Homo sapiens: one gene and its partner. The protein of the gene in region 2 purifies or fractionates together with the protein of the main gene of each other region. This does not show direct contact. Each region holds a gene or a part of one and is shown on either strand. Other genes may lie near its edges.

The links. Proteins that work in one complex are often made in the same cells at the same time.
Region 1: the proteins of NAA30 (region 2) and WDTC1 purify together in Homo sapiens (co-immunoprecipitation; 2 studies listed by BioGRID and IntAct, with this or other methods). This does not show direct contact.

Annotation. Positions count from the first base shown.
Region 1 is NC_000001.11:27,286,629-27,293,651, reverse strand, and holds part of WDTC1 (WD and tetratricopeptide repeats protein 1), read right to left. Parts: intron 5,979-7,023; coding exon 5,791-5,978; intron 1,438-5,790; coding exon 1,255-1,437; intron 1-1,254. UniProt on the Homo sapiens protein: May function as a substrate receptor for CUL4-DDB1 E3 ubiquitin-protein ligase complex.
Region 2 is NC_000014.9:57,386,110-57,393,606, forward strand, and holds the start of NAA30 (N-alpha-acetyltransferase 30), read left to right. Parts: upstream 1-4,476; 5' UTR 4,477-4,596; intron 4,597-4,847; 5' UTR 4,848-4,848; coding exon 4,849-5,619; intron 5,620-7,497. UniProt on the Homo sapiens protein: Catalytic subunit of the N-terminal acetyltransferase C (NatC) complex. Catalyzes acetylation of the N-terminal methionine residues of peptides beginning with Met-Leu-Ala and Met-Leu-Gly.

The sequences.
Region 1 (7,023 bases), on a different chromosome or scaffold from region 2:
AAAGCCCAGGCTGGAGAGGCAACTCAGGTCTGAGAGTGCTGTGGGGGTTCTGAGTGTTATAAGAACTAGCAGGAAATATTATATACAGTGATTTCTTTAAGAAAGACACTATAAGAGATTTATATAAGAAATTATAAGAATAAATAAATATAAGGAAATCATAAGGAATTTATGTAAGAGATTATGGGTAATTTATACTTTTTTTTTTTTTTTTTTAATTGAGACTGAGTCTCACTCTGCCACCCAGGCTGGAGTGCAGTGGCAGGATCTCTGCTCACTGCAAGCTCCGCCTCCCAGGTTGACGCCATTCTCCTGCCTCAGCCTCCCCAGTAGCTGGGACTACAGGCACCCGCCACCACGCCCGGCTAATTTTTTGTATTTTTAGTAGAGACGGGGTTTCACCGTGTTAGCCAGGATGGTCTCGATCTCCTGACCTCGTGATCCGCCTGCCTCGGCCTCCCAAAGTGCTGGGATTACAGGCGTGAGCCACCACGCCCGGCCTAATTTATACTTTTCATATTTTCCAACATAAGCGAGGATTAAGTTTTTTAAAAAATCACAAAATTGAAGAAAGTCCATTTCATAAAGAAGAAGGGGCCAGGCTGGGTGTGGTGGCTGACGTCTGTAATCCCAACACTTTGGGAGGCCGAGGCGGGCAGATCACCTGAGGTCAGGAGTTCAAGACTAGCCTGGTCAACATGGTGAAACCCCGTCTCTACTAATAATACAAAAATTAGCCAGGTGTGGTGGCAGGTGCCTGTAATCCCAGCTACTCGGCAGGACAACAGCTTGAACCCGGGAGGCAGAGGTTGCAGTGAGCTGAGATTGTGCCACTGCGCTCCAACACGGGTGACAGAGCAAGACTCTGTCTCAAAAAAAAAAAAAAAAAAAAAAGTAAAACAATAAATAAATAAATAAAAGAAGGGGCCAGGCACAGTGGCTCATGCTTGTAGTCCCAGCACTTTGGGAGGTCGAGGTGGAAAGATTGCTTTAGCTCGAGTTTGAGACCAGCCTGGGCAACAAGGAAAGACCCCGCCCCTATAAAAAAATTAAAAAATTAGCCAAGCGAGGTGGCGTGTGACTGTAGTCTCAGCTACTTGAGAGGCTGAGATGGGAGGATCGCTTGAGCCTGGGAGGTTGAGGCTGCAGTGAGCTGTGATAGAAGAAGAGGGCATGGCAATGGCAGTGAGGGAAAGGGGCAGTAGGTTCTCTGGGGACTTACTCACAGGAGACAGGAGGCTGAACTATTCATACCTGTGGTTATGGATCATGCGGATGTCATAGAGCCTCACGAAGGGCCCGCTGGCCCCAACTGCCAGGCAGTTGTTGTCCTGGGGGTTGACAGTGAGGCACTTGGCCTCCACCAGCTGGCCACAGTACTCTGTCAGGTCAATCAGCACCTCCGAGTGTTTGCTGTTCTCTCGAAGGTCATACTGGCTGTGAGAGAGGACAGAGTTAGGGAATTGGGGCTTGGGGTCCTTGAGAGGAAGGCAGGGGAAAAGATAAGTTCTTGTTATGCAAGAGGATTGGGAGGGACTTTGGACCTGTTTCTAAATAAGAATGTCAAAAACAACTCCCATTTCTTGAGTGTCCACAGTGTGCCAGGTACCTGTAGTAGGCTTCTCACACATTCTATTCTACTAGAACTCCTAAGGTGGATACTATTGTACATATTCTACAGATGTTAGTATTATTGCTACTATTATACTACTACTGATTACCAACACTTAGTGAAAATGTGCTTTATGTCCAGTATTGCCCCTTAATTAATTCCTAACGCCATCCCTAGGTATCATTAGAATACTGAAGTTCAAAGATGTTGAATAACCTGACTGAGATGACACTGCTAGTAAGTGCAGAGCTGGGGAAGCTTTCTGAGACTGCATCTTAAACACTGCTCCGTTCCTACCTAATCTAGTTTCTTTCATGAAACAAGGTATGGAGGTGACAGAAAAGAGACTCTGCAGATCATCTAAGAGCTATCTAGATATACCATGGGCCAAGGCAAGCCTAAAAGTCTCATCCACGCAGTAAAGGTAATGCCAAAAAGTCTACCAAACAGCAGCAAACTCCCACCGCTCCAGACGGGGAAACTTTGTGCTGCCAATACACAGGTATCCTCAGAGAGTGGTGGGTAGGGGGGACATCACCTATATGCTCTCCCCTCTTGCCTAGACATCTGTTATCACCTCTTTGCTGTTCACCTTGTCTTTCTAAGCCATCTTCACCAGGCTGCTCTTCCTAAAATATTATTTTACATCACTCTCCTGCTCAAAAAAATTGCAGAGATTCCTCAATACTTTTAGCACAAGTTTACTTTTACCAAACTCCTCAGTCTGGTTTTCAAGACTCAATTTCACATTTCTCTCCAACCTTATTCCTCAGTTTTCTAAATGTGGGTCAATTATAACTACAGAATTCTTTATCCTGCACATGCCATGTTTATTTCTGCCTTTGCAAACTCTGCTCAAGCTGGGGAATACACTCTGCTTTTCCTTGCTCATCCAAATCCTGTCTGTTCTGGAAGGCCCAGCTTATGTTCACCTTCTGCTAGGACACCTTCTCTGACTGTGCCTATGCCTAAACACTTAGGATCCTACCCAATGCGCTAGACGCTCCGCTTCTACCAGCTGGCCCTGGCAAAATCTGGTCAGCCAAGGTCAAAAAGTGCTACACAGAGTTGGACCTGCCACTGACAAAGTGCATTCTGTCTTCTGAGGTTCAGGGATGCAGTGACTTACCCCAGTCAAATACTGAGTGCGATTGCTAGGATTTGACCCCAGGTCTGTCTGACTTCACTGCCTTGCTCTTGACTATGTTATAATTTATATATGACTTAGATATTCCTCATCTGTAAAAGGAAAGAGGGCACAAAGTCCTACAGGAACTCAAGGGAGACAGATTAAAGCAGGCTGGGGAGATAAGAAAGAAGTTCTAAGGTCACAGCTGAAGAAAGGAGTTAAAGAAGGGCAACGACACCATTTTAGAATGAAGGGAAGTAGAGGCAAATGTGTAACAATGCAGGGCACTGGAAAAGGGGACAGTCCATTTTACCATTTCCGGGTGGCTTGCCCCCTCCCAGGTATATAGCCACTGACCAACTGTTCAAGAGAAATGTATCAAGCGGCTCTATGTGCCAGGCGCTGTGCTGGGCTCTAGGGATACAACCAAGAACAAGACAGACATGGAGTTGCTCTAAGAGAGTTTACTTTTACTATTTAGTGAGGATACAGACAAAAAAGTAAACCAATAAGTAAAAATAAAATAAGGCCAGGTGTGGTAGCTCACACCAGCAATCATAGCACTGTGGGAGGCCGAGGTGGGAGGATCACTTGAGCCCAGGAGTTTGAGACCTGCCTGGGCAACACAGAGAAACCCCATCTCTACAAAAAAAATAGAAAAATTAGCCAAGCATGGTGGAGCGTGTCTGTAGTCCCAGGTATTCAGGAGGCTGAGGTGGGAGAATCGCCTGAGCCCAGGAAGTCAAGGCTGCAGTGAGCCATGATCACGCCACTGCACTCCAACCTCGGCAATAGAATGGAGTGAGACCCTGTCTCAGAAAATAAATTAATTAGCTCCCTCTCCCTCTCCCCCTCCCCCTCCCCACGGTCTCCCTCTCCCTCTCCCCACGGTCTCCCTCTCCCTCTCTTTCCACGGTCTCCCTCTCCCTCTCTTTCCACGGTCTCTCTCTGATGCCGAGCCGAAGCTGGACTGTACTGCTGCCATCTCGGCTCACTGCAATCTCCCTGCCTGATTCTCCTGCCTCAGCCTGCCGAGTGCCTGCGATTGCAGGCGCGTGCCGCCACGCCTGACTGGTTTTCGTATTTTTTTGGTGGAGACGGGGTTTCGCTGTGTTGGCCGGGCCGGTCTCCAGCTCCTAACCGCGAGTGATCCGCCAGCCTCGGCCTCCCGAGGTGCCGGGATTGCAGACGGAGTCTCGTTCACTCAGTGCTCAATGGTGCCCAGGCTGGAGTGCAGTGGCGTGATCTCGGCTTGCTACAACCTCCACCTCCCAGCCGCCTGCCTTGGCCTCCCAAAGTGCCGAGATTGCAGCCTCTGCCTGGCCGCCATCCCGTCTGGGAAGTGAGGAGCGTCTCTGCCTGGCCGCCCATCGTCTGGGATGTGAGGAGCCCCTCTGCCTGGCTGCCCAGTCTGGAAAGTGAGGAGCGTCTCTGCCCGGCCGCCATCCCATCTAGGAAGTGAGGAGCGTCTCTGCCCGGCCGCCCATCGTCTGAGATGTGAGGAGCGCCTCTGCCCGGCCGCGACCCCGTCTGGGAGGTGAAGAGCGTCTCTGCCCAGCCGCCCCGTCTGAGAAGTGAGGAGACCCTCTGCCTGGCAACCACCCCGTCTGAGAACTGAGGAGCCCCTCTGCCCGGCAGCCGCCCCGTCTGAGAAGTGAGGAGCCTCTCCGCCCGGCAACCACCCCGTCTGGGAAGTGAGGAGCCCCTCTGCCCGGCCAGCCGCCCCGTCCGGGAGGTGAGGGGCGCCTCTGCCCGGCCGCCCCTACTGGGAAGTGAGGAGCCCCTCTGCCCAGCCAGCCGCCCCGTCCAGGAGGGAGGTGGGGGGGTCAGCCCCCTGCCCGGCCAGCCGCCCCGTCCGGGAGGGAGGTGGGGGGGTCAGCCCCCCGCCCAGCCAGCCGCCCCGTCCGGGAGGGAGGTGGGGGGGGGGTCAGCCCCCCGCCCGGCCAGCCGCCCCGTCCGGGAGGTGAGGGGTGCCTCTGCCCGGCCACCCCTACTGGGAAGTGAGGAGCCCCTCTGCCTGGCCACCACCCCGTCTGGGAGGTGTACCCAACAGCTCATTGAGAACGGGCCAGGATGACAATGGCGGTTTTGTGGAATAGAAAGGGGGGAAAGGTGGGGAAAAGATTGAGAAATCGGATGGTTGCCGTGTCTGTGTAGAAAGAAGTAGACATGGGAGACTTTTCATTTTGTTCTGTACTAAGAAAAATTCTTCTGCCTTGGGATCCTGTTGATCTGTGACCTTACCCCCAACCCTGTGCTCTCTGAAACATGTGCTGTGTCCACTCAGGGTTAAATGGATTAAGGGCGGTGCAAGATGTGCTTTGTTAAACAGATGCTTGAAGGCAGCATGCTCATTAAGAGTCATCACCACTCCCTAATCTCAAGTACCCAGGGACACAAACACTGCAGAGGGCCGCAGGGTCCTCTGCCTAGGAAAACCAGAGACCTTTGTTCACTTGTTAATCTGCTGACCTTCCCTCCACTATTGTCATATGACCCTGCCAAATCCCCCTCTGCGAGAAACACCCAAGAATGATCAATAAAAAAAAAAATAAATAAATAAAAATTAATTAATTAATAAAAATAACTACAGGTGGCAATTAGAGTTACAGAGGATATAATTGTTAAAACAAGCATAACGTCTGTCTACTTTAGACAGGATGGTCAGAGAAGGTGCTTCTGAAGAGGTAACTGAAGCTGATCTCCTTAGGATAAGAAAGAGTCCGACATGGGAAGAGCTGGGGACAGAGAATCTCAAGTAGAGGAAAGAGTAACGTGAATGCCCAGAGGCAGTAGAGACCCTGGACACCTGAGGTGGTGAGAAAAAGCTTGTGGGCCTAGAGGTAGTACAAAGGAGGGCAAAGAGGGAGGAAGGTGAGGGCGGAGTAAGCAAATGTTCCCAGTGGAGTTTGTACACAGACAACTGCCCTGGGCAGACAAAGGAGGTTGGACCTCTGCTGGAGGGAAAGAGCTAGGTCTGTAGAAGGAAACACTATAGGATGATGGGATGGGGGAGCGACAGGCTCCACTAGATGCCCCAGACTCTTACCGGATAAGCCCATCCTCAGCAGCACTCCAGAATGTGTTGGGCCACATGGGCGCTGTGGCGATGCGCTTCACCCGGTTTGTGTGGTCTCCAAACATGTGGATGGTCTCCTTTACTGTCAGGTCGTGCACATGCACCTTAGAGTCGGCTGCCCCCGTGATCAAGATGCGGTCCCCAGCGTGAGGCAGGAACTATATAGGAGAAATGGAGGAAGGGGTGGGTGGTAAGAGTAGAAATGGCCACGGAAGGAGGCTAGCCTGGATGTCTGCACCCTTTTCTCTCTCCATGTCAGATAAGAGAATGAGCCCATGCAGGCTGGGCGCGGTGGCTCATGCCTGTAATCCCAGCTGCTCAGCAGGCTGAGGCAGGAAAATCCCTTGAACCCAGGAGGCAGAGGCTGCAGGAAGCCAGAGGCTGCAGTGAGCCGAGATTGTGCCACTGCACTCCAGCCTGGGCAACAGAGCGAGACTGTCTCAAAAACAACAACAACAACAAAAAACAAAACAAACCCTTGAGGTTCAGCAGTAATATACAGCAAGATTGTGTTCAAGCCCAAGTCTGTCTGACTCCCACATGCCCTACTTGCCTCATTATGACTACTTAGTAACCTAGAGATTAAGTAATAAATTAGTCCTGAAGTGAAAAAGACTTTGAGTGTTTAAGGGAATGGGTGTGTGTGGGTTTTTTTTGTTTTTTTTTTTTGAGACAGCGTCTCGCTCTGTCACCCAGGCTGGAGTGCAGTGGTGCAATCTCGGCTCACTGCAACTTCCACCTCCCGGGTTCAAGCGATTCTCCTGTGTCAGCCTCCTGAGTAGCTGGGATTACAGGTGTGCACCACCACGCCCAGCTAATTTTTGTATTTTTAGTAGAGACAGGGTTTCACCATGTTGGCCAGGCTGGTCTCGAACTCCTGACCTCAGGTGATCCACCTGCCTTGGCCTCCCAAAGTGCTGGGATTGTAGGCATGAGCCAGAATGCCCTGTTGGGAGTGAGTGTTTTAAATTAGTTTGACTGCTTCTGAAAAACAATCTGGTAATAGTAACAAAGATTAAAAACAATTTCTAGTTTTTGACTCAAAACTTCCACTTCCAAGAAATAATCCAGGCCAGGCGTGGTGGCTCATGCCTATAATCCCAGCACTTTGGGAGGCTGAGGCGGGCAGATCACAAGGTCAGGAGATCCAGACCATCCTGGCTAACACGGTGAAACCCCGTCTCTACTAAAAATATAAAAAAA
Region 2 (7,497 bases):
AAGGACACAGCAGGATGAAATGCCACGATGGAATAAAGTGATGTGAGAACTGGAAGAGTCTAGTTAGGACATAACAGGTGATTTTTTGCCAGAGTGTTGTTTGAAGAAGGGCTGAGATTGAAGCCAACCCACCAATGAAGAGTGAACCTGCACCTGAGTAGAGACAGTGGATACCTATTGCAGATTAGGAGTTTGTGGTGAAAAGGAGGCAGGAAAAGGATGGTAGTGGGAGAAATCTCTAAATGGGGCATGTTTATAAACTTTGAGGCAGTAGCTAGCAAAGGTAACATGGAAAATTCAGGAGAGAGAAACAATGATGGGACAGGTTCTAAAGGAGCCTGAAAGAGAAAGCATCAAGCCCACAGGTAGAGGGAGGTATTAGTCATGAAGAATTGATCCATCTTCCACCCTCTTAAGACTGGGAGGGAGGAGGTAAGGGTAAGTTCAGATACAGATGAACTTATAGGTATGGCAGTAGAAGGCACACCTATGAAATAGTTCACTTTTCTTAGTGAAATGGAGGCAGGGTTATCTGCTGAGAGTGTGAAGCAAGTAGTGGTTGAGGACAGTTGCTGTTGGATGAAGCTGGCCTTGGAGACAGGTTAAAACAATTCTAGACAGCTGAAGGCATAGCTAAATTAGAGACCAAAAATTTTTTGGCTCTAATATGTAGGAATATATGATTCTCTCCAACATGTCTCACCAGCCCAGGTGTATCTGTGAGAATCACCCTGACCATGTCTTCAGGCAGGTCATGAAGAGTTAGTGTGAGGTTGAAAATAATGGAAATGGGGACCATTTGACCACAACCCTCTCTGGTTCTTCATAGTCCTCTGAGGCCTCAGTTCTACAAACAAAATTGATGCCTACCTACAATTGGTACTGCCATCCACTACTGGCAAGGGGAAAGAAGTTTAAAGAACAGACTGTCATTCCCCAAATTCGAAGGGAAGAATCAAATTGTTAGTCTTTTACCTGGGCATCTCAGAGTGTTCTAAGATTACAGGTAATACAACAATATACTAATATTCATCCTTTGGTTAAGTTCTTCAGCTCTCAAATTTGATGTATGTTCTTTCTTTCATTCAAGATGAAACAAAGTTAAGGACATTCATTTTCAGGGCTTTATGTATAATAGATAGGATTAGTGGGATTAAGAACCACATGACATGTAAAATAAAACTACACAAATATTTAAATTATTTAGTATGTGTGCCTATGGCACATAACAATGTCATCCTGCTGTGTCAAGGGAACTTAAAGCATCTTTCCATTATTCATTCCCACAGTTACCTTTCAGGTAGGTACACAGCTAGGTTTTCTCTCTAAACCTAGCCAATAAGAGAAAAATGCCTCACTGTTAGAAAGAATTAAATAGAAATTTTTCTCCTTCCAAGCTGATTTCAATAAATTGCTTCAGGATGTTGTTTTAAAATTGCTATTGGTTATTTTAATTGATTTAATGAGAAGCTTTTTTTTCTTCTAAAAAATTAAGGCATGTTCTCTTCTTCCTCAAAAGAGAACAACAATAGTAAAAAAAAAAAAAAAAGAAAAAAAAAGAAAAGAAAAAATGGCTGTTGCTTCATAGGATATTACAAAACAATGAAAATATCAACTAACCACACAGAAGAGTATCACTGCTACACTCACCTTGCTCTGAGCCCATTCTTTCCTATGAAGTATTGCTCATGGAGGTAGTTGTTTTTTCAGAGTCTCATAATAGTAAATATGTCTAAAGCATTAGAGTGAACTAATCCTATTTCTATGCCTAAAATAGTGCTATCATCCTATCAAGTAAACATGAATCAAATAGAAAAGATTTCATAAGTTATAAAGGCAATTTTTTTTAGAGATGTCATCTGATTTAGAAGGCCAACATTGTAATTTTAATACTGGGATATAAAGAAAAATCACTGGGGCTGAGACATTAGAATTACCCCACTAGTTATTGAGGAGGTCAGAATTTACTTTGTCATTATAAGCATTCTAGGTTACTGAATGAGAGACTGGTGTACTTCAGTCAAAAAGCTTAACAATTTCCCTTTTATGTGTTTGATATGTGAATACAAAGTGACTAACATTTACTCCCTGGCCTCAAGAAGGTCCTTACAACTCTTGACTTTCTGAAAACCACTTTGAGACAACATCTGGTCAGCTCCTCAGTGTGACAGAGCTCAATGCCAAGTTGCAACACAGAAAGAACAGGAAGGCCTGCTGCCATTCATTCACTACAGTGAAGGTACATGCTTTTTAGGAAGGGCTTACATTTAAAAGTAAATTACTGAGAGGTATTTTTCTAAGTAAAATTCACCCTTAAACATCTCTTATGGAATTATCTGGTGCCTCTTGGGCCAGTTTTTCCACCATGATTTGAACAGATCATTGTTTCATTGGCTGACTACCCAGGTTACACTTAGAAACTTTGAAAAACATGTATCTTTAAACAATGTATGCACATTTGGAAACATGGTTTTGTTTTGTGCTTTTTAAAAGACAGAAAAGGGATCACGCTGTACTTATACATCTCATTTATATCCCCCACACATCAAGGTGTTTAGGAGGTTTTCAATGTATCTGTAGCAAGTTATACATTCTGAAAATGGCCACAGCAATATTTCTGGTCCCATATGCTCTTTGAGAACCTTGCCTCTCTCCACCAAGAGTAGAGTCTATTTCCCCTCCTGTCAAAACTGGATATAATTTTGTGTCTGCCTAGATACAATGCAGCAGAACTGACACTACATAACTTGTTTTTTGTTTCTTTTTGATGAGAGGGAGTCTCCCTGTGTTGCCCAGGCTGGAGTGCAGTGGCGCAATCTCGGCTTACTGCAACCTCCGCCTCCCGGGTTCAAGTGATTCTCCTCAGCCTCCTGAGTAGCTGGGACTACAGGCATGAGCTACCACGCCCGGCTAATTTTTGTATTTTTCGGCAGAGATGAGGTTTCACTGTGTTGGCCAGGCTGGTCTCGAACTCCTGGCCTCAAGAGATCCTCCCGCCTGGGCCTCCCAAAATGCCAGGATTACAGGCGTGAGGCACCGCACCTGGCTAGAGACTACATGACTTCTAAGGCTAGGTTATAATGGGTAATATGCTTCTGATTGACTTTCTCGCACGATACTTGCCGTGGAACCCAGCCACCAGGCTGTGACAAAGCCCAAACCAATCAATGCTAAAAGACCACCGGGAGAGGTCTACATGGACTAGAACTGAGGCCTCCAGCCTTTATCCTGCATCAACCATCAGCGGTGAAAGTGAAGTTTTCAAATAATTCTACTCCTCAGCCTTAGAGTCTTCCAACTGAAGCTCTACGCATAATGGAGTAGAGAAAAGCCATCCCAGTTGTGCTCTGTCTGGATTTCAGAGGCACAGAATCTGCGAGCATAATAAATACTTTATACATAGAGTTTAGATTACGGCAAAAAGTTGCAAACGTGTTCCGTCATAGAATTATATATTGAAAACGTCCATCTGCGGCACACCAGACCAGCTCTATAAATCAGGTTTTTAACAAAACCGAATTTGTTCAGTGAGCGGGTGAGTTACACTACCTGTCTCAGCTCAGACCTGCCGGGAGTCAATTGTGGACTAGAGCAGAAGGCGCCCAGCCACAAGCTCAAGTTCTATCCCCTTTGCACTCGATAGGCAGATCCCCTGGGAGGATCAGGCCACCTGTTTACCAGTGCTTCCTAACCTATTTGTGTCACAAGTTTAGGAGTGTGCTTCTTAGCCCTGGTCACTCTCTTTCACCACCTCTCTCTAACCCTTCCCCAGGTGTGCTAGCAATTGCCCAACACCTGTCAGTCACTTTTGCCTCCAATTTTACTGGGTGCGAGGAGCAGAGTAAGGAGGGAGAGGAAGAGGGCTGACTCCCTTGCCTCAAAGTGGCAAGGGCCAGCTGAACTTAATTCACACTGCAAACCACCACGTTTCGACAGCCATCCCCATATTTTCACAGCTCAAATCTTCCTTTCTTTTTCGGTCGGCTTCTCTGATTTGCTCCATTTTTAATCGCTCCTCCCCCATCCTCCTTGCCCCTGGTCAGGGCAAACATTAAACGCTGTGCAGCTTTAAAAGGGCATTTTTAGGTGACTTGTAAACGGCTTGTTCCACAGGCCCCGAATTGGCGAGATTCGCTACAGCTCGGAGTGCGCGGTAGACTTTAAGCAGGGAGCGCCTGCCCGGTCCATCCCTCCCCGGCCCCGCGTGGCAAGCACCGCAGGTTGAGGCGCCCCCAAACCGAGGAAGAGGGTTTGGGAGCCTGTGACTCCAAAGCCCTCTGCAACTTCCCGGCCCCACAGCCCCACCCACTAGCACGCGGCCTTCCCCGCAGCCCGCAGGAGACACCTTTGTCCCCGCCCCTCCACAGGTCACCTCCCTCCACGCCCCTCTCTCTTGGCCCGGGCAGCCGGCAGGCAGGGAAGTGTCGTAAAGCCAGGCCCAGGAAACTTTACCCGGCCTAACAGCTGAGGCGCTTTACGGCGACGGCGGCTGAGTGAGAACCTTGGCGGCTGTGGAGGCTGCCGCGGCTGCGAAGGAGGCGGCGGCGGTGGCGGAGGAAGAGGAGTGGCGGCAGCGGCGGCGGGGACCCGTGCGGGGTGAGCCGTGAGGAGGGGCCGCGAGTGACAGGGCTGGCGGGTGGGCCCGGGCGGACGGGGACGGTGGCCGGCTGAGCAGCTGGGCGGCGCTGAAGAGCGGGGGGGTGGCGGGGAATTGGGGGGCAGCTCCGTGAGGGACGGTTTCTGCCTTTGTTCCCCCCACCTCGGCCGCCCCCCATCCGTCGCCCCCTGTTCTCCGCGCTCCTCGGCCGGGTTTCATGGCCTCCCCTCTCGGTCTGTGTCGCTTCTAGGATGGCGGAGGTACCGCCTGGGCCTAGCAGCCTCCTCCCACCACCAGCACCTCCGGCCCCGGCGGCGGTCGAGCCCCGCTGTCCCTTCCCGGCGGGGGCCGCCCTCGCCTGCTGCAGCGAGGACGAGGAGGACGACGAAGAGCACGAAGGCGGCGGCAGCAGGAGCCCGGCGGGCGGAGAGTCGGCGACGGTGGCGGCCAAGGGGCATCCGTGCCTCCGCTGCCCTCAGCCGCCGCAGGAGCAGCAGCAGCTCAACGGATTGATTAGCCCCGAACTGCGGCACCTCCGGGCGGCCGCCTCCCTCAAGAGCAAGGTCCTGAGCGTAGCAGAGGTGGCCGCGACCACAGCCACCCCTGACGGAGGCCCCAGAGCGACTGCAACAAAAGGAGCCGGGGTACACTCGGGCGAGAGGCCCCCTCACTCCCTCTCTAGTAATGCAAGAACTGCGGTCCCCAGCCCGGTGGAGGCAGCGGCGGCGAGCGATCCCGCGGCGGCCCGCAATGGACTGGCCGAGGGCACCGAGCAGGAGGAGGAGGAGGAAGACGAGCAGGTGCGGCTGCTGTCTTCGTCCCTGACCGCCGACTGCAGCTTAAGAAGCCCTTCGGGCAGGGAGGTTGAGCCTGGGGAGGATCGGACGATACGATATGTCCGATATGAATCCGAGCTACAAATGCCCGATATCATGAGACTGATCACCAAAGATCTGTCCGAACCCTACTCCATTTATACCTATAGATATTTTATCCACAACTGGCCACAGCTGTGCTTCTTGGTAAGTGGATAGAATAAAAAGAGGGTGAACCCAGCAGTGATCGAGACTGTGCGGGGCAGGGAGTGAGGGCCCAGAATGTGGCAGTGGATATCTCCTGCTGCGTATCATAGTACGTTATATGATGTCAAGTGCTGTACACATTCCTAGTTATTTAATGAAATTGTTTTGAAGGTAAGACTTCATGATTCGGGTTAACGTGATACTAGTGTAACTGCAGCAAGCCTGTATGGTGGCGTGTTTCACTGGGGTGGGGGTCTTGTGTCTTGTTTACATTAGATTATAATCGTGTTTAACCGTCTTTAATTACCCGCCCGCATCCTCAAACACTTTACAGTCATTTAATTTGAACATGGTTCTGTTCAGATACAGGCCTTATTAGTCTCTCGATTACAACCATAATCAGGGAAGAGTGTATGCATAAACATGTTGTGGTGAACATGGATGTCAGCAAACTTGGTGTGGTCATATTGGAGAATTAAATCTTACAAGCATTTTCGGTAATTATGGAGATGTTTCTCTTTACTTCAACTGGACAATTAACAGTTGTAGCCAGCCTGCTTTCTGGTACTCCATTCCAGAAAGCGCTACTAACACTTCTGGTGGCTGAAAGACTCCTGAAACTTGAACAAAATACCCTTTTGTGGAATGTAGAAAACTTGTGTGAAATTGTTACCGATCTGATTTTTTTTTTTTTAATTTAAGAAACTGGTTGTAGATGTGGCCAAACACTAGTAACACTGGCTTGTGTAGAGTATAATTGACAATAATATTACACGTAAGTGAAAGACTTTTGGACGGTTTTTAAAAATTAACATAGTATTGGCAGTACCAGTAATTTCTTCACAATAATATTGACCCATTTCAGTCTGTATGAACCCTTTAACTTAAACGTTGACTGCAGGTGTATGCTTTGTATCATGTGCTCACAAGCATATTGTTTCTGTTGAATTTTACTACAGAAAGATGACATCCTTTTAAGGAATATTTTTTAATATGTGAAGGGAAAAGCCACCATTACTTAATGTTTTAGCATTGGCTTAGTTTCACTTGGTAATTCCCTGCAAGATATTTTGACAATACTTATCTTTTTGATTCTCTAGCTTGGTGATAATTTGAAAATGTAACCTGGGTATTGTAGATAATGGTAGTTCTATTTTCTGTCTTAACTTGCTTAAACTTCAATTCAGTACATTTGTTAAAACTGTGGGTACTACTTTATATTCTTGAAAACTGCTCTTTCAGTATTCTAAGCATTGTATCAGAATAGTTCTAAGACATGTCTGTGTCAATGAATATGAGAAAATGATTTATAGCACTATTATAAATGTCATATCAAATGCCACTGTAATTGCTAAAAATTGTAGATTTAGTTGTAAGTTAACCCACAGAAGTAGATGATTGAGTCACATTTCAAGTTGAAATAGATGTTTTTCTGTCAATTCCAGGAAATAGTTGTGTATATGATATTTAGTCAACTTTGAGTCCTGATAGTTACCTAAGCCTCTCTCAACTTGTTTGCTATTTTAGACTCTGGTCAACAATATTAGTAAACTTTAGATTTGATTTTATGTAGAACCCTCCCAATTCACCAGCTAATGTGTATGTTAGCCTTTAGTAGCTCAAGTTTGTTTAATATTCTGAGTATCTAGAATTGCGATATGCACAAGTGGTTGACCTATAAGATTTACTGGTGCAAGTATGAATCAGGAGGTATTAAACAATAATAAAACAGTAAAAAAACAACCAGGCCATTTAAAACTGAAGCCTTTATCTTGGCATACTTTTAAATTTAAGTTTCCCATAGGAACTATTTTTTTAAAAATACAGATGCGTAAATGTCTGTTTATTTTAAATCATATCCTTTTAGAACTGAAAGCC